4 linked regions of the Homo sapiens genome follow. The protein of the gene in region 3 purifies or fractionates together with the protein of the main gene of each other region. This does not show direct contact. Each region holds a gene or a part of one and is shown on either strand. Other genes may lie near its edges.

The links.
Region 1: the proteins of ALDH2 (region 3) and SERPINA1 purify together in Homo sapiens (affinity purification with mass spectrometry; 3 studies listed by BioGRID and IntAct, with this or other methods). This does not show direct contact.
Region 2: the proteins of ALDH2 (region 3) and FGB purify together in Homo sapiens (affinity purification with mass spectrometry; 3 studies listed by BioGRID and IntAct, with this or other methods). This does not show direct contact.
Region 4: the proteins of ALDH2 (region 3) and TF purify together in Homo sapiens (affinity purification with mass spectrometry; 3 studies listed by BioGRID and IntAct, with this or other methods). This does not show direct contact.

What each region holds. Positions count from the first base shown.
Region 1 is NC_000014.9:94,378,603-94,385,602, reverse strand, and holds part of SERPINA1 (alpha-1-antitrypsin precursor), read left to right. Parts: intron 1-2,223; exon of another isoform or gene 2,224-2,361; 5' UTR 2,362-2,365; coding exon 2,366-3,011; intron 3,012-4,461; coding exon 4,462-4,732; intron 4,733-5,991; coding exon 5,992-6,139; intron 6,140-6,962; coding exon 6,963-7,000.
Region 2 is NC_000004.12:154,559,192-154,566,040, reverse strand, and holds the start of FGB (fibrinogen beta chain isoform 1 preproprotein), read right to left. Parts: upstream 3,031-6,849; 5' UTR 3,023-3,030; coding exon 2,909-3,022; intron 234-2,908; coding exon 42-233; intron 1-41. UniProt on the Homo sapiens protein: Cleaved by the protease thrombin to yield monomers which, together with fibrinogen alpha (FGA) and fibrinogen gamma (FGG), polymerize to form an insoluble fibrin matrix. Fibrin has a major function in hemostasis as one of the primary components of blood clots.
Region 3 is NC_000012.12:111,790,911-111,797,947, reverse strand, and holds part of ALDH2 (aldehyde dehydrogenase, mitochondrial isoform 1 precursor), read right to left. Parts: intron 6,643-7,037; coding exon 6,529-6,642; intron 5,888-6,528; coding exon 5,785-5,887; intron 5,351-5,784; coding exon 5,166-5,350; intron 1-5,165. UniProt on the Homo sapiens protein: Required for clearance of cellular formaldehyde, a cytotoxic and carcinogenic metabolite that induces DNA damage.
Region 4 is NC_000003.12:133,756,379-133,763,415, reverse strand, and holds part of TF (serotransferrin isoform 1 precursor), read right to left. Parts: intron 6,586-7,037; coding exon 6,407-6,585; intron 5,648-6,406; coding exon 5,470-5,647; intron 4,242-5,469; coding exon 4,087-4,241; intron 1-4,086. UniProt on the Homo sapiens protein: Transferrins are iron binding transport proteins which can bind two Fe(3+) ions in association with the binding of an anion, usually bicarbonate.

The sequences.
Region 1 (7,000 bases), on a different chromosome or scaffold from region 3:
GTAACCCCAGCACTTTGGGAGGCCAAGGCAGGCGGATCAAGAGGTCAGGAGTTCAAGACCTGCCTGGCCAACACGGTGAAACCTCAGCTCTACTAAAAATACAAAAATTAGCCAGGCGTGGTGGCACACGCCTGTAATCCCAGCTATTTGGGAAGCTGAGACAGAAGAATTTCTTGAACCCGGGAGGTGGAGGTTTCAGTGAGCCGAGATCACGCCACTGCACTCCACCCTGGCAGATAAAGCGAGACTCTGTCTCAAAAAAAACCCAAAAACCTATGTTAGTGTACAGAGGGCCCCAGTGAAGTCTTCTCCCAGCCCCACTTTGCACAACTGGGGAGAGTGAGGCCCCAGGACCAGAGGATTCTTGCTAAAGGCCAAGTGGATAGTGATGGCCCTGCCAGGGCTAGAAGCCACAACCTCTGGCCCTGAGGCCACTCAGCATATTTAGTGTCCCCACCCTGCAGAGGCCCAACTCCCTCCTGACCACTGAGCCCTGTAATGATGGGGGAATTTCCATAAGCCATGAAGGACTGCACAAAGTTCAGTTGGGAAGTGAAAGAGAAATTAAAGGGAGATGGAAATATACAGCACTAATTTTAGCACCGTCTTTAGTTCTAACAACACTAGCTAGCTGAAGAAAAATACAAACATGTATTATGTAATGTGTGGTCTGTTCCATTTGGATTACTTAGAGGCACGAGGGCCAGGAGAAAGGTGGTGGAGAGAAACCAGCTTTGCACTTCATTTGTTGCTTTATTGGAAGGAAACTTTTAAAAGTCCAAGGGGGTTGAAGAATCTCAATATTTGTTATTTCCAGCTTTTTTTCTCCAGTTTTTCATTTCCCAAATTCAAGGACACCTTTTTCTTTGTATTTTGTTAAGATGATGGTTTTGGTTTTGTGACTAGTAGTTAACAATGTGGCTGCCGGGCATATTCTCCTCAGCTAGGACCTCAGTTTTCCCATCTGTGAAGACGGCAGGTTCTACCTAGGGGGCTGCAGGCTGGTGGTCCGAAGCCTGGGCATATCTGGAGTAGAAGGATCACTGTGGGGCAGGGCAGGTTCTGTGTTGCTGTGGATGACGTTGACTTTGACCATTGCTCGGCAGAGCCTGCTCTCGCTGGTTCAGCCACAGGCCCCACCACTCCCTATTGTCTCAGCCCCGGGTATGAAACATGTATTCCTCACTGGCCTATCACCTGAAGCCTTTGAATTTGCAACACCTGCCAACCCCTCCCTCAAAAGAGTTGCCCTCTCAGATCCTTTTGATGTAAGGTTTGGTGTTGAGACTTATTTCACTAAATTCTCATACATAAACATCACTTTATGTATGAGGCAAAATGAGGACCAGGGAGATGAATGACTTGTCCTGGCTCATACACCTGGAAAGTGACAGAGTCAGATTAGATCCCAGGTCTATCTGAAGTTAAAAGAGGTGTCTTTTCACTTCCCACCTCCTCCATCTACTTTAAAGCAGCACAAACCCCTGCTTTCAAGGAGAGATGAGCGTCTCTAAAGCCCCTGACAGCAAGAGCCCAGAACTGGGACACCATTAGTGACCCAGACGGCAGGTAAGCTGACTGCAGGAGCATCAGCCTATTCTTGTGTCTGGGACCACAGAGCATTGTGGGGACAGCCCCGTCTCTTGGGAAAAAAACCCTAAGGGCTGAGGATCCTTGTGAGTGTTGGGTGGGAACAGCTCCCAGGAGGTTTAATCACAGCCCCTCCATGCTCTCTAGCTGTTGCCATTGTGCAAGATGCATTTCCCTTCTGTGCAGCAGTTTCCCTGGCCACTAAATAGTGGGATTAGATAGAAGCCCTCCAAGGGCTTCCAGCTTGACATGATTCTTGATTCTGATCTGGCCCGATTCCTGGATAATCGTGGGCAGGCCCATTCCTCTTCTTGTGCCTCATTTTCTTCTTTTGTAAAACAATGGCTGTACCATTTGCATCTTAGGGTCATTGCAGATGTAAGTGTTGCTGTCCAGAGCCTGGGTGCAGGACCTAGATGTAGGATTCTGGTTCTGCTACTTCCTCAGTGACATTGAATAGCTGACCTAATCTCTCTGGCTTTGGTTTCTTCATCTGTAAAAGAAGGATATTAGCATTAGCACCTCACGGGATTGTTACAAGAAAGCAATGAATTAACACATGTGAGCACGGAGAACAGTGCTTGGCATATGGTAAGCACTACGTACATTTTGCTATTCTTCTGATTCTTTCAGTGTTACTGATGTCGGCAAGTACTTGGCACAGGCTGGTTTAATAATCCCTAGGCACTTCCACGTGGTGTCAATCCCTGATCACTGGGAGTCATCATGTGCCTTGACTCGGGGCCTGGCCCCCCCATCTCTGTCTTGCAGGACAATGCCGTCTTCTGTCTCGTGGGGCATCCTCCTGCTGGCAGGCCTGTGCTGCCTGGTCCCTGTCTCCCTGGCTGAGGATCCCCAGGGAGATGCTGCCCAGAAGACAGATACATCCCACCATGATCAGGATCACCCAACCTTCAACAAGATCACCCCCAACCTGGCTGAGTTCGCCTTCAGCCTATACCGCCAGCTGGCACACCAGTCCAACAGCACCAATATCTTCTTCTCCCCAGTGAGCATCGCTACAGCCTTTGCAATGCTCTCCCTGGGGACCAAGGCTGACACTCACGATGAAATCCTGGAGGGCCTGAATTTCAACCTCACGGAGATTCCGGAGGCTCAGATCCATGAAGGCTTCCAGGAACTCCTCCGTACCCTCAACCAGCCAGACAGCCAGCTCCAGCTGACCACCGGCAATGGCCTGTTCCTCAGCGAGGGCCTGAAGCTAGTGGATAAGTTTTTGGAGGATGTTAAAAAGTTGTACCACTCAGAAGCCTTCACTGTCAACTTCGGGGACACCGAAGAGGCCAAGAAACAGATCAACGATTACGTGGAGAAGGGTACTCAAGGGAAAATTGTGGATTTGGTCAAGGAGCTTGACAGAGACACAGTTTTTGCTCTGGTGAATTACATCTTCTTTAAAGGTAAGGTTGCTCAACCAGCCTGAGCTGTTCCCATAGAAACAAGCAAAAATATTCTCAAACCATCAGTTCTTGAACTCTCCTTGGCAATGCATTATGGGCCATAGCAATGCTTTTCAGCGTGGATTCTTCAGTTTTCTACACACAAACACTAAAATGTTTTCCATCATTGAGTAATTTGAGGAAATAATAGATTAAACTGTCAAAACTACTGACAGCTCTGCAGAACTTTTCAGAGCCTTTAATGTCCTTGTGTATACTGTATATGTAGAATATATAATGCTTAGAACTATAGAACAAATTGTAATACACTGCATAAAGGGATAGTTTCATGGAACATACTTTACACGACTCTAGTGTCCCAGAATCAGTATCAGTTTTGCAATCTGAAAGACCTGGGTTCAAATCCTGCCTCTAACACAATTAGCTTTTGACAAAAACAATGCATTCTACCTCTTTGAGGTGCTAATTTCTCATCTTAGCATGGACAAAATACCATTCTTGCTGTCAGGTTTTTTTAGGATTAAACAAATGACAAAGACTGTGGGGATGGTGTGTGGCATACAGCAGGTGATGGACTCTTCTGTATCTCAGGCTGCCTTCCTGCCCCTGAGGGGTTAAAATGCCAGGGTCCTGGGGGCCCCAGGGCATTCTAAGCCAGCTCCCACTGTCCCAGGAAAACAGCATAGGGGAGGGGAGGTGGGAGGCAAGGCCAGGGGCTGCTTCCTCCACTCTGAGGCTCCCTTGCTCTTGAGGCAAAGGAGGGCAGTGGAGAGCAGCCAGGCTGCAGTCAGCACAGCTAAAGTCCTGGCTCTGCTGTGGCCTTAGTGGGGGCCCAGGTCCCTCTCCAGCCCCAGTCTCCTCCTTCTGTCCAATGAGAAAGCTGGGATCAGGGGTCCCTGAGGCCCCTGTCCACTCTGCATGCCTCGATGGTGAAGCTCTGTTGGTATGGCAGAGGGGAGGCTGCTCAGGCATCTGCATTTCCCCTGCCAATCTAGAGGATGAGGAAAGCTCTCAGGAATAGTAAGCAGAATGTTTGCCCTGGATGAATAACTGAGCTGCCAATTAACAAGGGGCAGGGAGCCTTAGACAGAAGGTACCAAATATGCCTGATGCTCCAACATTTTATTTGTAATATCCAAGACACCCTCAAATAAACATATGATTCCAATAAAAATGCACAGCCACGATGGCATCTCTTAGCCTGACATCGCCACGATGTAGAAATTCTGCATCTTCCTCTAGTTTTGAATTATCCCCACACAATCTTTTTCGGCAGCTTGGATGGTCAGTTTCAGCACCTTTTACAGATGATGAAGCTGAGCCTCGAGGGATGTGTGTCGTCAAGGGGGCTCAGGGCTTCTCAGGGAGGGGACTCATGGTTTCTTTATTCTGCTACACTCTTCCAAACCTTCACTCACCCCTGGTGATGCCCACCTTCCCCTCTCTCCAGGCAAATGGGAGAGACCCTTTGAAGTCAAGGACACCGAGGAAGAGGACTTCCACGTGGACCAGGTGACCACCGTGAAGGTGCCTATGATGAAGCGTTTAGGCATGTTTAACATCCAGCACTGTAAGAAGCTGTCCAGCTGGGTGCTGCTGATGAAATACCTGGGCAATGCCACCGCCATCTTCTTCCTGCCTGATGAGGGGAAACTACAGCACCTGGAAAATGAACTCACCCACGATATCATCACCAAGTTCCTGGAAAATGAAGACAGAAGGTGATTCCCCAACCTGAGGGTGACCAAGAAGCTGCCCACACCTCTTAGCCATGTTGGGACTGAGGCCCATCAGGACTGGCCAGAGGGCTGAGGAGGGTGAACCCCACATCCCTGGGTCACTGCTACTCTGTATAAACTTGGCTTCCAGAATGAGGCCACCACTGAGTTCAGGCAGCGCCATCCATGCTCCATGAGGAGGACAGTACCCAGGGGTGAGGAGGTAAAGGTCTCGTCCCTGGGGACTTCCCACTCCAGTGTGGACACTGTCCCTTCCCAATATCCAGTGCCCAGGGCAGGGACAGCAGCACCACCACACGTTCTGGCAGAACCAAAAAGGAACAGATGGGCTTCCTGGCAAAGGCAGCAGTGGAGTGTGGAGTTCAAGGGTAGAATGTCCCTGGGGGGACGGGGGAAGAGCCTGTGTGGCAAGGCCCAGAAAAGCAAGGTTCGGAATTGGAACAGCCAGGCCATGTTCGCAGAAGGCTTGCGTTTCTCTGTCACTTTATCGGTGCTGTTAGATTGGGTGTCCTGTAGTAAGTGATACTTAAACATGAGCCACACATTAGTGTATGTGTGTGCATTCGTGATTATGCCCATGCCCTGCTGATCTAGTTCGTTTTGTACACTGTAAAACCAAGATGAAAATACAAAAGGTGTCGGGTTCATAATAGGAATCGAGGCTGGAATTTCTCTGTTCCATGCCAGCACCTCCTGAGGTCTCTGCTCCAGGGGTTGAGAAAGAACAAAGAGGCTGAGAGGGTAACGGATCAGAGAGCCCAGAGCCAAGCTGCCCGCTCACACCAGACCCTGCTCAGGGTGGCATTGTCTCCCCATGGAAAACCAGAGAGGAGCACTCAGCCTGGTGTGGTCACTCTTCTCTTATCCACTAAACGGTTGTCACTGGGCACTGCCACCAGCCCCGTGTTTCTCTGGGTGTAGGGCCCTGGGGATGTTACAGGCTGGGGGCCAGGTGACCCAACACTACAGGGCAAGATGAGACAGGCTTCCAGGACACCTAGAATATCAGAGGAGGTGGCATTTCAAGCTTTTGTGATTCATTCGATGTTAACATTCTTTGACTCAATGTAGAAGAGCTAAAAGTAGAACAAACCAAAGCCGAGTTCCCATCTTAGTGTGGGTGGAGGACACAGGAGTAAGTGGCAGAAATAATCAGAAAAGAAAACACTTGCACTGTGGTGGGTCCCAGAAGAACAAGAGGAATGCTGTGCCATGCCTTGAATTTCTTTTCTGCACGACAGGTCTGCCAGCTTACATTTACCCAAACTGTCCATTACTGGAACCTATGATCTGAAGAGCGTCCTGGGTCAACTGGGCATCACTAAGGTCTTCAGCAATGGGGCTGACCTCTCCGGGGTCACAGAGGAGGCACCCCTGAAGCTCTCCAAGGTGAGATCACCCTGACGACCTTGTTGCACCCTGGTATCTGTAGGGAAGAATGTGTGGGGGCTGCAGCTCTGTCCTGAGGCTGAGGAAGGGGCCGAGGGAAACAAATGAAGACCCAGGCTGAGCTCCTGAAGATGCCCGTGATTCACTGACACGGGACGTGGTCAAACAGCAAAGCCAGGCAGGGGACTGCTGTGCAGCTGGCACTTTCGGGGCCTCCCTTGAGGTTGTGTCACTGACCCTGAATTTCAACTTTGCCCAAGACCTTCTAGACATTGGGCCTTGATTTATCCATACTGACACAGAAAGGTTTGGGCTAAGTTGTTTCAAAGGAATTTCTGACTCCTTCGATCTGTGAGATTTGGTGTCTGAATTAATGAATGATTTCAGCTAAAGATGACACTTATTTTGGAAAACTAAAGGCGACCAATGAACAACTGCAGTTCCATGAATGGCTGCATTATCTTGGGGTCTGGGCACTGTGAAGGTCACTGCCAGGGTCCGTGTCCTCAAGGAGCTTCAAGCCGTGTACTAGAAAGGAGAGAGCCCTGGAGGCAGACGTGGAGTGACGATGCTCTTCCCTGTTCTGAGTTGTGGGTGCACCTGAGCAGGGGGAGAGGCGCTTGTCAGGAAGATGGACAGAGGGGAGCCAGCCCCATCAGCCAAAGCCTTGAGGAGGAGCAAGGCCTATGTGACAGGGAGGGAGAGGATGTGCAGGGCCAGGGCCGTCCAGGGGGAGTGAGCGCTTCCTGGGAGGTGTCCACGTGAGCCTTGCTCGAGGCCTGGGATCAGCCTTACAACGTGTCTCTGCTTCTCTCCCCTCCAGGCCGTGCATAAGGCTGTGCTGACCATCGACGAGAAAGG
Region 2 (6,849 bases), on a different chromosome or scaffold from region 3:
CATGAGAGAGCCACCACTGCAAGAAACATCAGTGCACCCACCAGGTCTGGGTCAGCGTGAAGACAGCCTCCAGCATCAGGGGCTTTTCTTTCTACTTTCTTTTGAGTGGCAGCTGCTTTGGCTGGACGAGCCCGATAGCCACCTCCACTGATGGGCGGTGGGGCAGGCCTCAGGCTGGGAGCCTCTTCTCTCTTCTTGTCAAGGGGTCGATGACCACGGGCACTGAAGAAACCCTACAAGGAATGAGGCAGAAATATAATACAGAGTGTTATAGAAGATTTGGAATGTAACTATTCCAACACCCTCATTTTATAATTTAGGTTATCACAAGCTTGATAATTTGCTTAAGATCCATCAACTGGCTGGTTGGTGATAGTGAATCTGTAGGTTGCTTACTGTTCAGTAACAGTAGAAAGACCAACTGCACAAAAAAGCTATGATGCAGTGTAGTTTTTAAAGAGAGGCCTTAGGATAAAGCTGTATCAGATTATGAATAGTAATGACCTCATATTCCTAAAACATACATTGGAACTTACGAAATTGTAAAGAATCTATACTGTCAAGAAGAATGAATATTCTCAAGCCACTTGGATTGTTAGATTCCTATGATTATTGTTAATCATTTCCCTACTTTCATTTTTGTGAATTGGTGATTAGACTCCTATATAAACATATTTAAGAGACATTAAAGACTTATTAAAGGTTGATTCTACTTGGAATTTATTTGTAATAAGACAATCTTTGACCCTCATAATGTACTCTGGAGCTCGGCTACTTGTAGGTCTTGACCGTAGGGTTGACTTACAGCTATGAGACCTTGGGCAAGTTGCTTTATCTGTGCCCCAGTTTTCTCATCTGTAAAATAAGTGTAATGATAGTTTGAATCTGCCTTACAAGATTATTGTAAGGATTAAATAACTTATTGCATATGGTACCCTCAGAACAGTACTTGGCAATAATAAGTGCTCATTACTATTTTTACTGGAATCACACATAACAAGTACTACAGTTTAAGTGTCCTCTCCACTTCGAATTTCACTTTTAGTCTTATCTTCTATCAACAAAATTATTTGTTAAACCATTATCTTGAAATTTCTTACATGATTTCTTTATCAAACATTATGATTTTCTTATATTTAAAATAATTCTCAAGGCTTGTGCATTGTAATTAAAATTACTTGCTAACTTAAAATATTATATTAAAGGATAATGAAGCAGAAAATACGCATTGCAATAGGAAAGTTTTGATTTGGATTAACTACATTCTCATTTTTTTTTTTGTCAGTAGCTATACATCCTTTGGAGCTTAATTACAAATTAACAAACGACATGATTTGGAACAACTGAGCAACAACTGAGCTCTCTTGCAATTTTGTGAGTCTAGAAGTCATCAGATGAACTCTATTTGGAATTGCATTGTCATTTATTCATTAGATTATAATATTATTTAACATTTAGTAGGATGGTGCTAAGATTAAAACCCAGCCAGGCTGGTTCCAGATTTTCCTGTTTAACCAGTTGACTATATACATTCTTAATATGTAAAGATTCGGAGGATATATACATATTTCACATTGAAGTCATGGTCCTAGTCAGAGCTTACCCTCTCTAAAACAAATTTTAAGAAATGTGATTCATCTGCTTATTACAAATACAATTATAACAGAGAAAACTATTTTCTTTTTATTTCAGAGTGCCACTAGAGAGGTAGCATGGATGGTCTGGCTTTACTAGAGAAAAGGAAATTTTAAAAAATATTTAAAGAAAGTATATACTTAAAGAAAAACACTTAAAGAAATTATGAAGGCCACTTGTTGAATAATCAAAATCCATTTTAAAGCCTAAACTATTAAACTATCTCTGTGAGGTTTAGTTGATAAGCAGAAATGTGAAAGTGCTTTGCAGAGTACTTTACAAAAATTTCGTCTTACACATTCTTTACATTTTTCTTACCTAATATGATTAACCAGACTTAACCAGATTAACCATATGTTTTTACACACACAACCAGATTAACTATATGTTCTTACATGTAGAGTCTGATAAGTACAACACTCAAGTTCCCTTGAAACTCAATAATGATCCGAAATGAATCACTTCATTTAAATATTATTGTGTATTCTTATTTCTAGTTTAATGATACTATGCTATATGTAAGAAATTTGGCCATGATACGTTTGATGATAAAATTTAAATTTCTTAAATATCCATTGTCCTAAATGCATTTCTGTATTTTTAGTAACTGCAAATTAACAGCAATAAGTCAGCAAAAATAATAGTTGAGGACAAACTGTTCTACAAATAAATAAATTAGACTGAACCGTGTTTCATAACTATTAATAATAACAATACACACTAACTCTAATTTGAACTTTTCATCTGAAAAAAGCAATATTTCATTTTCTATCATTACACTTGATGTATTTTGCTTTTAGGCTTAGTTATAATTTTTATAAATAGTAATCTCAGTAACAATATATATTACCTTCCTTCACCAAAGAACAATCTACCTACCACCAGTTTCTTTTATCTTAAAATTCTGCTCTTTTATTATTTTATAGTTTGTGAGATTTTCAGATCTTGTCCTCTTAATTGTAATCCTGTATTGCTAGAAGTAAATGAAAATCACAGTACTCAGAATAGCAAGTGAGAAAAACACATCTTACATTAGCTAAGCCATCCTCATCTTAAGAAAACAAAGGTGATAAACTAGAAAACAAGAAATTACTTTGTTTTTATATAAGAAATACTATGAAACATTCTTTAAATACAATAAGTCAGAGGTTAACAATTCCATTTCATAACTATAAGCAATGCTAATTTCATTAAAATAAGCACATAATATGATTATGTTACATCTTATATTAATAATACTACTAATAATATAATAATGCTTTAAAAAATTCACCTCCTCATTGTCGTTGACACCTTGGGACTTAACTAGAAAAACACACAATAGTAGCAATAATAGATGTTTCATGGTTTTAAGTTTGTGGAAGCTCCAAGAAACCATCCTTTTCATGTAGACTTAACTGAGAGATCTTCAATCCTATATATATCTGAGTCCTCTGCTAGGAATGACTTCAGAAATGGTTACCTTTCCTTAGTTAATATTTAATTTTTGGTTCACTTGTTGGCTGAACCATTTTATCATTTAAGCAACATCTTCCCAGCAAAGCTTATTTACTTGTCATACAACTATTATTCTTTGTTGGTCTAGTTTAGAAACATTAAATTTCTTCAATTCATTTAATTGGACAAAATGATGGGAAGTTAGGGCACTCCTCAAAGAGAGATGTGTATCTTGTTTCTGGTAAATTAATGTGGAAACTACACAAGCTCCGAAAGAATATGTGAGAAAACAAATCTAAGCTTAGTAAATTTGACCTACTCACAAGGCAACCACTAAAATCGTGACTCATTAATGATATACCATAAATGCTTATGTTTTCTGACAATGACATAATTCTATTTCAAAAGGGGCCATTAAAATCAATAGTAATGTTATATCATAATGTGTTTATCTTTTGTTTTAGACATTAATCAAAATAACAAAATAACAAATTCATACCCTATTCTATGAAAAATACACATCAGAAAGACCCTTTTTTTGTGCTGAATAGCTTTAATATTTTGTCCTTAATTCACATAAGGTAAAATGTTCAACAAATTCTAAACATTATTAAGATAACTAATAAATTATAGATTTCTGAATCAAAATTATGATGATGATTAAATACATGTTTAACATTCTATTTTATTGTTATATAGTTTATATCATATGATTTATAAAAACAATGTTATTTTAACACTGGTGAAGTCTTCATACATCTATTTCAATTAGTATGCTCACAGACTAAATGAGGCCCATTTTCCTTCATTTCCCACAAGCCACAAAATTTATCTCTCTTGTCTGTTCACTTGTGTGTTGCAATCAGGATTAATAACTCCTACAAGAATCAATAGGAACACCAGTCAGTAATCCAAATCCCAGTAAGTGCATTGATTCAAAGCATTTTTCTGTTTTTTGTATGGAAAGTGAAACATTCTCATTAAATTTATAAATTATTTTATTAAAAAGATGGCAGGTTATCAGGGTTTGGATCAGCGTATTGAAACAATGCTTTGAAACAGAGTCTTGAGAATGGTGTGGGACCCACGACATTTCTTTCTTCTCCAGGTAGCAGAGATTGCATTCCCAAATTCTTTTAACTCAGATTCCTAGAAACAAATTATTCTCTTGGTAGCATAGGTTGTCCTCCCAAATTCTTTTAACTTAGCTTAATAGAGACAAAGTACTCAGTTTAAATTAAGAAAAAATATTCACTTGAGTCTTTCCAAATTTGTGTTCCCTTTATTAGCAATGAGTAAATATTATATTTTAAGATTTTTTTCTTTAGCTTTAATGGTTTTTAAAGGGATACATGATCTGACAGAAAAAGCAAATATCTATGTGGCTATTAATTAAAATATATACAGGAATATTTTCCATGAAAATATAACTGATAACAAAGTTTATTTTAATAATCTAGACAGGATTTTATTTTAGTGACGTACAGATTCTTACAGATTTAAAAAGAATTATCTGTTAAGAAAACTCTAACCTTTTTTTTTTCTTTTGAGGTAACGTATTACTACATTTTCAATGACTGATGTTTGATCAACTAACAATAGAATCATCATTTAACTTTCAGAAGTCTGTAAATTTGTAAAGTTTTTTCTAGTATATAATAGACTCTTGTTCAACACTAAAGTGAAGGTTCCTTTACTTTCCTACTTTGTTCTACTCTGATTGGCATTCTTCCCATGGTCAGAAGGAGGATGGATTCAATCCAGCATGCATGCACCATAACAGCACAGACTTAACATTCATCTTACAAATAGTTCTTGAGAGTCTCCTCAGTGACGGGTAGTGTGATAGGGGCTGGGAATGCATTGGTGAGCAAGACAGACATAGTAGGCGTTCAATACATAATTACGGGATGAATGAGTGAACTGGCTGTCATTGGTACATGCCTCAGATGCCAAATTATGGTAGTCATTTATCGTATTTAATTCTTGAAACCACTATGTTCTACAGATGGTGAAACAGGTTCAGAGAGGTTAAGTAAACTACCCCAGAGTGTATAGGTAGTAGGTGCTGGTATGAGGACTTGACCCCTGACTGTCTGACTCTACAGTCCACACTCTGTGCCCATTACATTATATTTCCCAACAGGATACAAACATTATAAAAATTTACCTCTACCTTCTTTTTGTGTGTTTGTTCTTTTGGAGTATTTTGGCCAGCCTGTCATCTTGGGACCATAATGTATCAGGCTGACACACTCACTCATAGCTTTTACTTTCACTTATCTTTTTACCCTCATATGTGGGTATAGTATTCATGTCTGTGTGAAGCATGTGCAATGCAGTGATAATGAGTTTTTGTAATTCTAGTTCTTGTTAGATATGTCTTTTTTCTGTAGAGTTATGTACAGTTACACTGGGACTCTAAATTGCCTAATATTACAAAGAATATTATCATGTTTTCAGGGAAGAAATATATTTGCAGAGACACCGCTTATTAAGATGCTTAAATTTTTTTAGAATGTTGATGCCATTGGTGGAGGGGAAAGGGAGTACTATTTGTTCAGTTATTTTGAGGTCATCAGTGCAGTGTTCTTCATATTAGCTGATGTCATTGCATAAGTCAAGGGTAGTAAATCAGTGACAGAGAAAACAGAGATAATCTGTCCTGCCCAGCAGCTCTCTGGCTTGAAGGGCAAAGACTTGCCGATACCCATTGTCAATACACTTGTTGATACTTTTACAACTCATGTCAGGCCCAGTCTCCATAGCACAAGGCAATTTGTGCTTAACAACTATTTACAGAGCATCTACTTCATAGCAGGTAGTTTGCTGGGGGCCGGGGAGACCTTGGCGAAGCCTTAAGTCTAAAAGGAAAGACAGAAAATGAAAACTACTTACAATAATTAGTGTTGAGCCTAAGATTGGGGGAGGTGAGGCTTTGGGACTGGTAACTTAAGGATCTAACTTTCTTCAGGGGGAAACGAACTTCAAAGGAAAAGGGCTTTTAGACTTGAAACTTGGTTTGAATGACTGTACAGTTTATGTCATGCACCTGGCACATAGCCAGTATTTAATAAATATCGGTTGAGCAAATTCATGAATATATAAATGAACGAATGACTAAAAGGAATACTGATTCTCGTTGTCTAAATATGCATAGGTTTTGAGGTACTGTAATAAGTTGTTAGTCTCTGTATATATTTTCCTTGTGTTACCTTGATTAACACTGACGAGTTGGAGGCCAGGCTGGACCAGAGCTCTTGGGGCAAGCCTGAGAGCAGTGCAGTGGTGACACCTGCAATTTGTTGGTCATCTTTAGTGGGAAAGCATATGGTGGGGAAGAAATAGGAGATGACGCCATCTCTTGTGGAATGTCTCCCTCTACTGGCTTAGATGTCAGTTTCCATTTCTTATGGGAGCTGACATAGAGCATGGTAATAAGGGATAATAGGACATTTTCTCCTACAACAGGATGGAGATCACAAGAGCTAAGAAAAGATAGAGATGCTCTTCTGCTTTTGTCACATTGAGACCCACAACCATTAAGGGTGTAATGAACACCTCTGGGAGTGCTGCTCCCTTCTCCTGGAATGACCCCTAAAATGGAGGTATGAAGCTCCAGTGGTCCTGTCAGTACTACAACACCCTGACCCTCTAACCACAGGTGACCAAGCTAGGGGTAGACAGACCCTTTACGCAAGCTAAATCTACCAGATTGTCTCTCCAAATTTGATATTTGCTGGAAGAAGAAGGAGGAGGAGGAGGAGAAGAAGAAGG
Region 3 (7,037 bases):
AGGAAACACACAGGGCCAATAGCAGAAAACACAAAAAAGGCCCAACTTCCTCAGCCTACCGGAGAAAAGGACATCAAATCAATCTTTACTTTTCAACTATAAGATTACCAAAAAGTTTAGGAAGAAAATACACTGATAGCAAGAGACCGTTACATATACTGTTAGAAGGATGACAGACTGGTACAGCCTTTAGAGCAAGTGGTTTATTAATATTGCTCAAAAATTATATACTCAGATCCTTTGGCCCAGCTATTTAACTTCTAGGAATTTATTCTACATATGCACAAAGAGAAATGAACAAGGATATTCACTAGGGAGTATTTTTTTTTTTTTGTATTTTTGTTTTTGAGATGGGGTCTCACTCTGTCACCCAGGCTGGAGTGCAGTGGTGCGATCTCCACTCACTGTAACCTCTGCCTCTCATGCTCAAATGATCCTCCCACCTCAGCCTCCCGAGTAGCTGGGACTATAGGCATGCACCCCTACGCTGGGCTAATTTTTGTATTTTTAGTAGAGACAGGGTTTTGCCTTGTAGCCCAGGCTGGGGGAGCATTTTGTAAAGGCAAAAGATGGAAACAATTCTAAGTATAAATCAGTAGAGGGGTTGGTTAAAATTATTACGGTGCATCCAGTATATTGTCATCACTAATAGATCTGTGAACTAACTGACACAGAAAGATGGCCCAAGATACTCTGTAAAAAGAAGGAAAGCTTGGGCCAGGGGCAGTGGCTCACGCCTGTAATCTCGGCACTTTGGGAGGACGAGGCAGGCAGATCATGAGGTCAGGAGTTCAAGACTAGCCTGGCCAACATAGTGAAACCCCGTCTCTACTAAAAATACAAAAATTAGCTGGGCATGGTGGCACATGCTGAGGCAGGAGAATCGCTTGAACCAGGGAGGTGGAGATTGCAGTAAGCCAAGATCGCGCTATTGCACTCCAGCTCTGGCAACAGAGACTTCGTCTCAAAAAAAAAAAAAAAAAGAAGTAAAGCTTGTAGAACAATATGCACTTATATACTCCTTTATAGGGTAGGGGAGAAGGGCGACAGGGTCTCACTCTATTGCCCAGTCTGAAGAGCAGTGGCACAATCACGGCTCACTGCAACTTCAATCTCCCTGAGCTCAGGTATCTTCTCATCTCAGTCTCCCGAGTAGCTGGACCACAGGTGTGTGCCACCACACCTGGGTAATTTTTATATTTTTAGTAGGGATGGGGTTTTGCTATGTTGCCCAGGCTAGTATCTAACTCCTGGGCTCAAGTAATTGACTCACCTTGGCCTCCCTCCCAAGTGTTAGGACTACAGGGGTTAGCCACCACACCCAGCCTATTTTTTAAAAAATAAACATACAACAGCATAACTGTGTGTGCATGAGTGGTTACCAATGGAGAATAAAAGAAATGCAACAAAGTCTTATTTTTTACATTAAATACCTTTTTTTAAAAAGAGTCAGGGCCTCACTCTGCCACTCAGGCAGCAGTGCAGTGGTGTGATCACTGCTCACTGCAGCCTTGACCTCCTGGGCTCCCACCTCAGCCTCCCAAGTAGCTGAGAGTATAGGCACGCATCACTACATCTGGCTAATTTTTTTTTGCTTTTTTTTAAAAAAAAAATTATTTATTTTTTGAGGTGGAGTCTCACTCTGTCACCCAGGCTGGAGTGCGGTGGCACGATTTTGGCTCACCACAACCTGCGCCTCCCGGGTTCAAGTGATTCTCCTGCCTCAGCCTCCCGAGTAGCTGGGATTATAGGCGCCCACCACCACGCCCAAATAGTTTTTGTATTTTTAGTAGAGATGAGGTTTCACCGTGTTGGCCAGGCTGGTCATGATTTGCATTTTTTTTTTTTTAGTAGAGATGAGGTCTTGCTGTAGTGCCCAGGCTGATCTCGAAATCCTGGGCTCAAGAGATTCTCCTGCCTCAGCCTCCCAAAGTGTTGGGGTTACAGATGTGAGCTGCCACACATAGCCTAAACACTTTCTCATTAAATTTATTAATGCAAGTTTATATTATCTTAATAATTAGCCACAAAGAGAAATGAGACAAAAAGAAATGTTAGGACGGGTGCAGTGGCTCAAGCCTGTAATCTCAGCACTTTGGGAAGCTGAGGTGGGCGGATCACAAGGTCAGGAGTTCAAGACCAGCCTGGCCAACATGGTGAAACCCTGTCTCTACTAAAGATACAAAAAATTAGCTGGGCATGGTGGTGGGCGCCTGTAATCTCAGCTACTCGGGAGACTGAGGCAGGAGAATCATTCAAACCTGGGAGACGGAGGTTGCAGTGAGCCGAGATCGTGCCACTGTACTCCAGCCTGGAGACAGAGCAAGACTCTGTCTCAAAAAAAAAAAAAAGAAAAGAAATGTTAGGACAGGTGCGGTGGCTCACACCTGTAATCTCAGCACTTTGGGAGGCTGAGGCAGGTGGATCACCTGAGGTCAGGAGTTCAAGACCAGCCTGACCATCTTGGTGAAACCCTGTCTCTACTAAAAATACAAAAATTAGCAGGGCGTGGTGGCGTGCACTTGTAGTCCCACCTACTCAGGAGGCTGAGACAGGAGAATTGTTTGAACCTAGGAGGTGGAGGTTGCAGTGAGCTGAGATGATGCCACTGCACTCCAGCCTGGGTGACAGAGCGAGACGGTCTCAAAAGAAAGAAAGAAATGTTAGTGCCCCTAGCTGCACTATTCACAGTAACCAAAAGGTGGAAACAATCAAGTCTGTCAACAGATTAATAGAAAAATCAAAATGTGGTCTATTCACACAATGGAATATTACTTGGCCTTTTATGTTCTGATACATTCTTATTACAACATGGATGAACCTTTAAAACATGGCTACTTGGAAGAAGCCAGACACAAAGAACCATGTAGGATTCCATTTGCATAAAATGTCCAAAATAGATAAATCTATAGGCAGAACATAGATTGGTGGTTGCCTGGGCCTGGTAGGGGGAGGAATGGGGAGTGACTGCTAATGGGTACAGGATATTTAGGGGAGGCAATGACAATATTATAGAATTAGTGGTGATGGTTGCACAAAGTTGTGAATATACTAAAAATCACTGAATCGTACACTAAAATGGTGCATTTTATGCTACGTGAATTATATCTCAATAAAGCTATTAAAGATAGAGATGTTGGAGGCCAGGCACAGTGGCTCACACCTGCAATCCCAGGACTTTGGGAGGCTGAGGTGGGAGGATTGCTTGAGCCCAGCAATTCAAGACCAGCCTGGGTAACATAGCAAGACCTCATCTCTATAAAAAATATGAATATTAGCCAGGTGTGGTGACGTGTGCCTGTAGTCCCACCTACTTGGGAGGCTGAAGCAGGAGGATCACTTGAGGCCAGGAGGTTAAGCCTGCAGTGAGCCATGATCACACCACTGCATTCCAGCCTGGGCAACAGAACAAGACCCTGTCTCTAAAAAAAATCAAAGAGGGGGATGTTGGGCACATAACCCTGTCCCATGGCAAGGCCAGTCCATCCTCAGACATGGCTGTGGCTCCCCACTGAGGAATCAGAAATGCAAACTGCTAAAAGAAAGAAGCCAGTCTGAGAAGGCTACCTACTGTATGATTCGTATAAGACAATCTGGAAAAGGCAAAACTATAGAGACAATAAAAAGATCGGCCAGGCACAATGGCTCACGCCTGTAATCCCAGCACTTTGGAAGGCTGAGGTGGGTGGATCACGAGGTCAGGAGATCGAGACCATCCTGGCCAACGTGGTGAAACCCTGTCTCTACTAAAAATACAAAAATTAGCTGGGCATGGTGGCATGCACCTGTAAGTCCCAGCTACTCAGGAGGCTGGGGCAGGAGAATCACTTGAACCCAGGAGGTACAGGTTGCAGTGAGCCGAGATCACGCCACTGCACTCCAGCCTGGTGACGGAGCGAGACTCTGTCTCAAAAAAAAAAAAAAAAAAAAAAATCAGTGGTTGCCTGCCAGGGCTCAGGGGAGGAAAAGAGGGAAGAATAGGTGGAGGACGGGGGTTTCAGGGCACAAATATATTTATATGATACTAGAATGATGGTATCATACACATTATGATACATTTGTCTAGGCCCATAGTAAGTACAACACAAAAAATGACCCCGAGGCTGGGTGCCTGACAGCAGATTGCCCGAGCTCAGGAGTTCGAGACCAGCCTGGGCAACAGAGTGAAACCCTGTCTCTACTAAAACACAAAAAATTAGCCAGGCGTGGTGGTGCGCACCTGTAGTCCCAGCTACTCAGGAGGCTGAGGCACAAGAATTGCTTGAACCCGGGAGGCATGAGTCGAGATCGTGCCACTGCACTGCAGCCTGGGTGACAGAACAAAACTCTGTCTCCAAAAAAAATAAAAATTAAAAAAAAAAACCCGAATATACACTACAGACCTAAGTGAATAATAAGGTACCAGTATTGGCTCATCAATACTAACAGATGAACCACACTCATGCAGGATGTGAATAAAGGGGAAACTGGTGGAACAGGGAGGTGCGAAGGAATATATGGGCACCCTCTGTACGTTCAGCTCTATTTTTCTATAAACCTACAACTGCTCAAAAGTAAAATCCAGGCCAGGTGTGGTGGTTCATGTCTGTAATCCCAGCACTTTGAGAGGCCAAAGCAGGAGGACTCCTTGAGCCCAGGAATTCAAGGCTGAGGTGAGGTATGATTGCACCACTACACTCCAGCCTGGGCAACAAAGAGAGACCTTGTCTCTAAAATATAAATAGGTAAATAAATAAATAAATAAAATCAAACAGCTCAAAACATGAAGTGAAATAAAGTCCCTATACTAGCCATACCATGGCTCTCAGACACGAAGGTTCACAGAGCTGTGTATCTTCTGGTGGATACACTTCTACTGATGACCAAGGTCTTGGAAACACACACTCCCTTTTGCAGACACTCCTGGTATTTGTTACATATATGCAATTTACAAAGTGCTTCCCAGGATTAATTTCTACATCACAGCCACCCTGTGAATGAGGCAGGGCACGGCTCGGGATGGGGAAATGAAGGCTGAGGGAGGGAACATAGCTTCCCAAAGGCACACAGCTGCTGTGTGGTAGAGCTGAGACCTGAACCCAGTCCCAACTGATCTGAGCCCGATGCCCTCTCTGCTTCTCATGCTGGCTCTAGACACCCAGACCCTGCGGCACTGCCTGGCTCACCTGCGGCCCCTGCTCGGTCTTGCTATCAAAGGGGTTCCCGACCACCCGAGACTTGGCCCGGGCAACGCTCCGCTCCACAAACTCATCATAGATGTCCTCCTGCACGAAGGTCCGGGAGCCGGCACAGCAGCACTGGCCCTGGTTGAAGAACAGGGCGAAGTGGGCCTGTTCCACGGCCCAATCCACTGCGGGAAGTGGGCAGGAGACAGAAAGGTGACAGTGAGGAGGAGGACCCTGGCCCTGGTGGCCGCCTGCCCAATGGAGCCTGTTCCCACCACTGTAAGGGTTGATGCCTGCTGGGTGCCAGAGACAGATACAGGGAGATGAGGGGTGCTCTCGGAGCCCACTGCCAACCAGGACAAAGGGCGTGATGGCGGCAAGTGGATGAGTCAGATAGCAGGGGCGTGGCCTAGCCTGATGATGCAGAGAGCAGCCAGGGAGAGGCTGGGGACAGGCCAAGGCCAGGCCATGCAGGCCCTGCGCTGGCGTCTTATCCTGAGGCCCGAGGGACAGCAACCAACGCCATTGGGCACTGGGGGGGCGACAGGATCGGCTGGAGCCACAACACAGGTGGCCAGGGCTACCTTCAAGGCCAGGCCTTCTCCAGCTGGAAACTCACTATCGGCATCTGACATGATGATGTTGGGGCTCTTCCCCCCCAGCTCCAAGGTCACTCTCTTGAGGTTGCTGCTCCCAGCAGCAACCTGGATTACGCGGCCAATCTGTGGGGACAGAAAGACAGGAACAAGCTCTCAGTGCCGGGAGAAAAGAGTCCAGCACTCTATAGACACAGAACAGAGTCCCCCACAGCTTGAGTGAGCAACTGGACCACGAGAGACCTAGAGAATTTCACCAAATAGACGTTCACTTTTTTTTTCTTTTGGACAGGGTCTCGCTCTGTCACCTAGGCTGGAGTGCAGTGGCGTGATCTCAGCTCACTGCAGCCTTGACCTCTCAGGCTCTGGCAACCCTCCTGCCTCGGCCTTCCAAGTAGCTGGGGCCACACGCACACACCACCACACAAGGCTAATTTTTAACCACAATGGCAGTCCTGGTCAAGGAGTCTGACCTGGCCAAGATGCTTTGATTTGGGGCAAGCGGTCAGCTCTGGGCTATGTGGAGTCTGGCCAGGCCTGGCCTCCTTAGTCCACATGGGACACTGGCCCCTCCCAAGGGCAGCTAGTGTGGCAACCAGACCACGAAGGGCTCAACCCTGCCCCACCCCTCCTGGTACCTACAGGGTCGTCCTGGAGGAAAAGGCCTCCGCTTGACACCCGGGAGCTCACCTTGAGCATGTCGTCCACTGAGGACAGGGGGAGCTTGGGCCAAGGAGGCTGCAAGCTTGAGGCCAGGGTCACCTTACCTCAGTGGAGCCTGTGAATGCCACTTTGTCCACATCCTCATGGGAGGCAATGGCGGCCCCAGCCGTGGGGCCAAATCCAGGCACAATGTTGACCACACCAGGGGGAAAGCCAGCCTGTGAGCAAACAGCCAGGGGACATTGGGAGTCACCCTCCTATTCTGAAGGGCTCAACCAGGGGAAGACACATCCTTTCTCAGAGAGGGTGGGACAGTCTGCCAAGGACACATGTGGTCAGAAGCTAATTGTATGGGGCACTACATGGGAATTCTAAATGGGACGGAGAAGGAGTCTGTTCGCTGGGGTTCCCTGTGTCTTTGCCCCTCCCCTGACAGCATTCACTTAGAACAACAGTGGGTTTTTGTTTGTTTTTTGAGACCGAGTCTCTCTCTGGCACCCAGGCTGGAGTGCAGTGGTGTGATCACAGCTCACTGCAGCCTCAAACTCCTGGGCTCAAGTGATCCTCCTGCCTTAACCTCCCAAGTAGTTGGGACTACAGGTGCATGCCACCC
Region 4 (7,037 bases), on a different chromosome or scaffold from region 3:
GTCTTAAAATATCATTTTTTTCTTTAAAACGTAAGTATGGCTATATTTATTTCTCTTAATTCATGCAAGATAGTAATTACACATCAGCAAATATTATCCTCAATAATGATTTGATTCATAAGCATTTGAAATGTATGTAATTTCACATCAATAGCCTTGCATTTTTTTAATACTGTAAGTTAAAAAGCACCCCCCAACAGCCACTTTATATATTTTCCATAACTCCCTCTACACATCCAAACTTTAAACATAAACTGAATATATAGGTCATGTTTAGAAACTTGAGGTTTTAGAAATCTGCTTCCTCACTATGATTCAGAAAACTCCTTATACTGACAATACAGTCACAGGTTAGGTAAAGGTAGTTGTAGGAGGGGAAAAGGAAAAAGACAGACACAAGTTTGCTCTCCTACTATTTTACTAATCCTGTCTGTTGAAAATGGTGATGTCTTAAGAAGTAAAAATCTAGGTTGAATATGAAGAATGGAGTTTGCCTCACAGTTTGAAACATGCATTTCAAATAATTTCCTATTTGATTTGAGCTCACTGTAGCAAACTGATGCCAAAAGAGAAAAATCATTTCTTCCACACATTCGCTCAGAGTCTGCCTGGTAATGTGTATTAAATTCTTTGTGTTTTAGCTTGAAGGCACCTGTCACCAGACCAGTTTCAGGATTCATGGGTCAGGGCTCAAACCAATTTTTAATAGATTTTCAAACTTTTTCAGACACGCCCAAATAGCAGCTTCAGAAAGTACTTTACGTATGGTAGTCCCCTCTTATCCTCAAGGGATATGTTCCAAGACCCCCAGTCTTGGAACCTGAAACCCTATACAATGTTTATTTCCTATACATACAAGCCTATGATAAAGTTTATAAATTAGGCACAGTAAGAGATTAACAACAACAATAATAAAACAATTATAACATACTATAATAAAAGTTATGTTAATGTGCTCTCTCTCTCTCTCAAAATATCTTAACATTTTTGGACCACGGTTGACTGTAGGTATAACCCAAGAAAGCGAAACCTCACATAAAGGGGGACTACTGCACCTCATCTTCTGTTTCACAACTGTTAGAGAGCTACTCTCAAGTTCCTGTAAGTCCTTTCTTTCAAGTTAGTTCTGTTAGTTCCTTTTGATTTGGCACAACAAATCCAATGACATAAGAACAATTAACTGTTTGCAAATGCACAAACGTCATCTATTACTGGGAGATTCTTCAGAGTTGGCTCTACTTTCCCAAGGGAAACATAGTCTCCTGCCTGTAGTTTTACAAGGTCCTTTTTATGATCGATCATCTGTAAACAACCATCAAACTCTTCAGCATCTCTAGGACATAATCACTTCTGTCCATTTCCATCTTCAAATAAATCAGCTTTTGTTTCTGCTTCATTTCTGTAGCATCCCATTGTCACATTTTAGCCACCGATAAGAATTCTACCTCTGGGATGTGGTTTTTCAGTATTAAAGTATCCACCTTCCTCCCAGTTCTTTAATTTAATTTCACAGCAAACTAATGGGACTCTCACTTCTGCCAGTCTTGTAATCCACACATCTGTAATTGTTCCAGCCCCTGTAGGTTCAGTGAGTCTGTATTCATGAACTTGCTGCGTGTTGCAGAAAGTGGAGCACTTTCATACAATAAAAGCTGAATATTTCCACCTAGCTAGCTTCACAGTTTCCAGAAAACAAAGCTGTCACACAATCCAGTACTATGCTCTTTTGAAATGTGTTCCATTTTATAATTATAAGCCAGAATAAACAGATTGTGTTGAAGACTACTGATTTCATACACTTAATTCATGACATTTTGGTAGATCTGATCCATGATTTCCAGAACAGCTGCCATCAGTGTTGGTCTCAACCCAGAAGTACACCCTTTGCTTCTGGTTTTTATTTTTTTATTTTTTATTTTTTTGAGATGGTGTCTCACTATGTTTCCCAGGCTGGACTCAAACTCCTGGGCTCAAGCAATCCTCCTACCTTAGCCTCCTGAGTAGCTGGTACTACAGCTGCATGCCACAGTGGGCAGCCCATTTTTTACTTTTAAAGACTGATCCACTGAAGTCTGGGGTGAAGAGGAGCCAAGCAGGCATCCATGAGAAAAACAAAGAAGCTCAAAGCTTAATTCTAGAACATGGGCCACAGGTAAATATCCAATGTAGTCATCTTCCTCCTCCAGTCTGGGAATCCTTTCTGCCATCCCAGTAATACCAGTAATGATGTTTCTATGCGAGATGATGACTCCCTTTGGAAGTCCTGTGTGTCTACTCATGAACATGATTACTGCAATAACCGAGGGCACTGGTCACTTTGGGATCTGTTTTCCACACTCACCTTCACTTTCTACTGCAGCCATGATGTCCATGATAACAACCTTGGGAAATTGGGACAGGTCAGTGGCTTCCCATTGACAGTGATGATGTGTCACAGGTGTGGGACCAAATAAACTATGTCTTTCAACTTTGTTTCCAATAATTCTTTACTAGCAATGAGATTAGTTACTTTTGTTTCATTAATCCATGGGCCCTGGACCTCCTAAAGTAGCATATAATTTTATGAACTAAATGTTATGCATGAAACATACCTATCCAGCAATCATCCACTTGGACGTGGTCTCACAGAACATGGCAATGTTGGTCTTTGGTTTCTGCCCCAACATCTGTAAGCTATTTCCAACATTAAAGGCTCAAACGATGACATCTTCATAGGAGAGCAAATTATGATGTCCAAGAAGAACCTTTTAAAATATGTTTACATTTGGTTGTACTTAATCTTCATTTAAGATTTCACATGTTCCCAAGAGTCTTTTGCTCTTCCTTTTTTTTACAGACGTAAAAAACTTTATCTATTGTATCACATCCAGAGTATAATATTGAAGCCCAGCCACTCAAACTGCTAACAGATTTGTATAGACTCAGGTTTTGAATTTGTAGGCTTTGCTTTAACTTAGTTTGGTTTTTCTTGTCTTGACTCAGACAAAAATTAAAATGGAATATATGTTAAAATAGCATAAAGTGATATCTATAAATTGTATGAAATATAAAATAATGAGCTTGATGGTCCCTTTTTGCTTCATGGTAGATAGTTCTGAAGATACATGGTTATTCATAAGTGCTCAAAAAGTAGAATTAACATATTTCAGCAAAAATCTGTTGACAATGGCAGGAAGTACCTTTATAATATGCATCTTTGTTTCAATATATTTGCTGATTTATTATAAAGGATCCAACTCAAGAATAGCCAAATGGAAGAGACACAGAGGGCAAGAAATGTGGGGAGGAGGGGGAGTGGAGCTTGGCACTTCATGTTCTCTCTAGGCAAACCATACTCCCCCATCTCGATGTGTGCACTAACACAGAAGCTCCAGATTAGGTTTTACAAGAATGATTTATGATATGGGAAAAGCTTACTAGATACTGTGAGTGAGTAAAAGGTAGCAAGCAACCTACATGAAATGATCCCAATAAGGGAATTTTCTCTGAATTACATGATTATAAGTACTTTTTATTTCTTCTTTATATCATTCAGGATTTTAAAAATTCTCTGTAAGCCAACATGGAATATTCTTTCTTAAAAAAAAAATGTTGTTAGAGACAAGGTCCTGCTAAGTTGCTAGCCCTGAACTCCTGGGCTCAAGCAATCCTCCTGCCTCAGCTTTCGAAGTAGCTGGGACTACAGGTGCATGCCACCATGCCAGGCTAGGATACTCTTTTGATCAACAAAGCAAATTTGTACCTGATTGGATCCTACCATGTACTCAGGATCTTATCTCAGTGATCGTGGCACACCACTGGTCTCAGGACACCCACACCATGGTCCAGCCTCCCTAAGCAGGCACTGCTCAGCCTGCCCTTTCACCATACACTCATACAAGGAGGAAACTGAGCCCTGTGGGCACCCTTCAGATCCACAAGCTCAAAGATTCTGAACCTCCGGTGGGGCTGTGCTCACATAGTCAGGGCAAGGTTCCTGGGAGCCAGGTTTTTGCATCATTCCCAGGAACACTCCCTAGCTCAGTCTTGGGGGCCAGCAGGCAGCAATGACAGGGACGCTGCCCTAGGAAGGCTGGAGTGACATACCATGATCTTGGCGATGCAGTCTTCGGTGGTCTCTGCTGATACACACTCTATTTTCCCTACACTGTTAACACTCCACTCATCACACTTGAGCCTCTCGTGGTGGCTCAGCGCACACCACTTCACAGGCTTGCATTCATCTGTTGGGGCTTCTGGGCCTATGGCATAAAAAAAGAACAAAGATCAGAAGCGGCCCTAGCTGTTGCCTGGTGTTTGTCAGCACTACTCACTGTCTTCATGCAAATGCTGGGATTTGCCAGCAATAAACAAACAGACCCCATTCAAGGAATTAATCACCTTAGAAAGCAAAGTCAATGCACAATCTCTTGGTTGACTTCTCATTTAAATTTAGTTTTTTATGTCTTCCGAGAAGCCAACTTTCCTCTCCAGCCTCTGGGCACTATATGACCTCTGGCTGTTTTTTTCCTTCTTGTTTTTCAGATAGCACTTAACTACTGGAGGTGTTCTTATTTATATGTTCATTGTTTATTGTCAGGTTTTCTGCAGGAGAACAGAAGCTCCAACACAGAAAGGGCCCTGCCTGTCTTGTTCACCAGGGCATCCTCAGGGTTAGGGCAATGCTAGCACATGGTCAGCATAATAAATGTCTGATGAATAAATGTACATCTGCTCATCTTTCAGACTGAGCTCAAGAGTCACTTCCTCAAGGAAGCTTTGCCTTAACGCCAAGTCCAGGGCCTATTTTTCTTTGTTTTGCAGTCTCATAGGGCCATGGTATTTTGTTGTCATATTTTTCCCCTTTTAAACATATCTCTTACTTTGTAATTCATCATCCAATAGCATGACTATTCATTAAACATTTATCTTCTCCCCAGTTTGAAATTTCCAGGACAACAGAATCAAATATATATTTGTCATGCCATCCTATGTCCAGCACCTAGCAGAGCATATGGCTAGATGTTCAATAAATGTCTGCTGAATAAATGAATGGTCAAGCAAAACCACAGTGACTCAGTGAAATCCAGGACTGGGATCAACCTCTCTTAGAGCACCTCTTCATTATGGTACATGTTGACTGGCTGGAGATGTGCAATATATAGCAATTTTGTTCTATTTCACTTACTCTGTGATAAGCTAATTGCCTTCACAGAGTAGGTAAGGCAGTCCTGATTGATGCAAAGGAAATACTGGAACCAACCCACGTCATTTTAAATGTGGATTTCCTGTAAAGCCCATGGTGACATCAAGGCCATCTCATAATGACTAACGCCATTCAGCATCAGTCTAACACTGGGCTCACAGACAGGTCAGAAAAAGGAGCATCAGGAGAGGCGTGCAGGTCCCTGAAAAGACTCAATCTCTGGCCCCTGTGCTCACCAGGTTTCCCAAGTGCTTGTGGTCACCTGGTTCTTCCCAGGTACTCACATGTGCCTTCCCGTAGATTCCGGATGGCAGTGACATACTCATAGCCCAGGTACATCTTGGCATCCATCCTGGGGGGGACTTTTAAAAACCCGTGGGCAGAGTCCTTAAACAGCAGGTCCTTCCCATGAGGAGAGCTGAATAGTTGGAATTCTTTTGATTTGTCTTTGCCAAAATGTTCCTGTTCATAGAAAAACAGAATAGTGGATGGCAACACAGAAGAAAGGAGGCTGAGAAATGGGACTGAAGAGAAAAGAAATCTCTGCAGGAAACAACATGAAAAAGTTCAAGATGCCAGGAGAGAGGGCAGTCGGACCTGCTCCTGCTCACCCAGCACTTCCTCTGCCTGTAGCCCTCGTGGGTCCGCGATTTGCCTGAACCTGCTTCTGTGCCTGTCTCCCGGAACGGGTTGAGACATCGGTGAGAACAAGAAACGTGGCTAATCCAGAGGCTGCCCTGTGTGGTTACCAGTCAAACTCTCAGTGGACAGATGGGACGGCTCGGCAAGAGGAAGCTGGCTGAGCCCAAATCACACAGCTCTTGGGAAGTAAAGCCGCTGTGCAGGCAGCCCCCTCACAGCCGGGCTGAGGGGCATGGGGAGAGAGACCATTTCCTTCTGGGAGGGTCATGGAAAGCCTCCTTGGGGAGGGGTTTAGCTTTGGGCCTTGAAGTTTAGGTAGAAAGGAATGCAACAGAGCAATACAGAGCCTCTTCAGGTGTCACCAGCCAGAAAGGCAAGGGCGGCAGACGGTAGCACCACAGCAGGCTCCCTGCTGCTCTGTGGGGAGTCCCAGCTTTTAGAGAACTTAGTGACATGTGGCATGGCTCCCACTGTATCCTGAACACACAGACTTCCAGAGTGACAAGATGGCCAGGAGGAAAACCCCCAAATCCAAGCAGGGAGCACTAAGCTGGAGGGGAGGATGGCAGGTGGGGATACCTGGGCCTGGTTGAGAAGCTCCCAGATCAAGTCCTCCTTGCCGCCCATACTTCGGGCCACGACGGTATGAGAAGGGACCTGGGCCAAGTGGCAGTCCTTGTATTCATCTACCGGCTTCCGGGTGTTGTCCAGGCAAAGCAGCTCATACTGGTCCCTGTCAGCCTTGTTTGCCAAGTTCTCTGGGGAGGGAAAGCCCAGGTGAGCTTAACACAGGAGAGCCATGGGCTGTGGTGCCCATCCTTGAAATTCAATTGATCATAGAAAGTATGAGCTGAGAGGTCTGGAGTGAGCACTGAAGGCCAGAGAACATGCGGGAGAATGACTCGCTCAAGAGCCCACAGCCAGGTAAAGGCTTCTGATGCCCATGTAGCAGTGATTGCTCCTCATTCCACCATGAGCCTGATCTTAGCAGCACCAACCCCCAGTCTTTGGTTATGGCAACACTACCCCAGAGGCAGAGGCACCGTGTGGAGAGATTGAATGATGGAAAGAGGCCCAGGAATCCAGATGGGGACCCCGTAGGTACCTAACTCTGCACAGGTGGAAACCCAGGCAATGATAAAGGAGAAATACAGTATGCTCATTTCCAATTACTGAGCATGAAAAAGGGAACACAGAAAAAGAACACCCA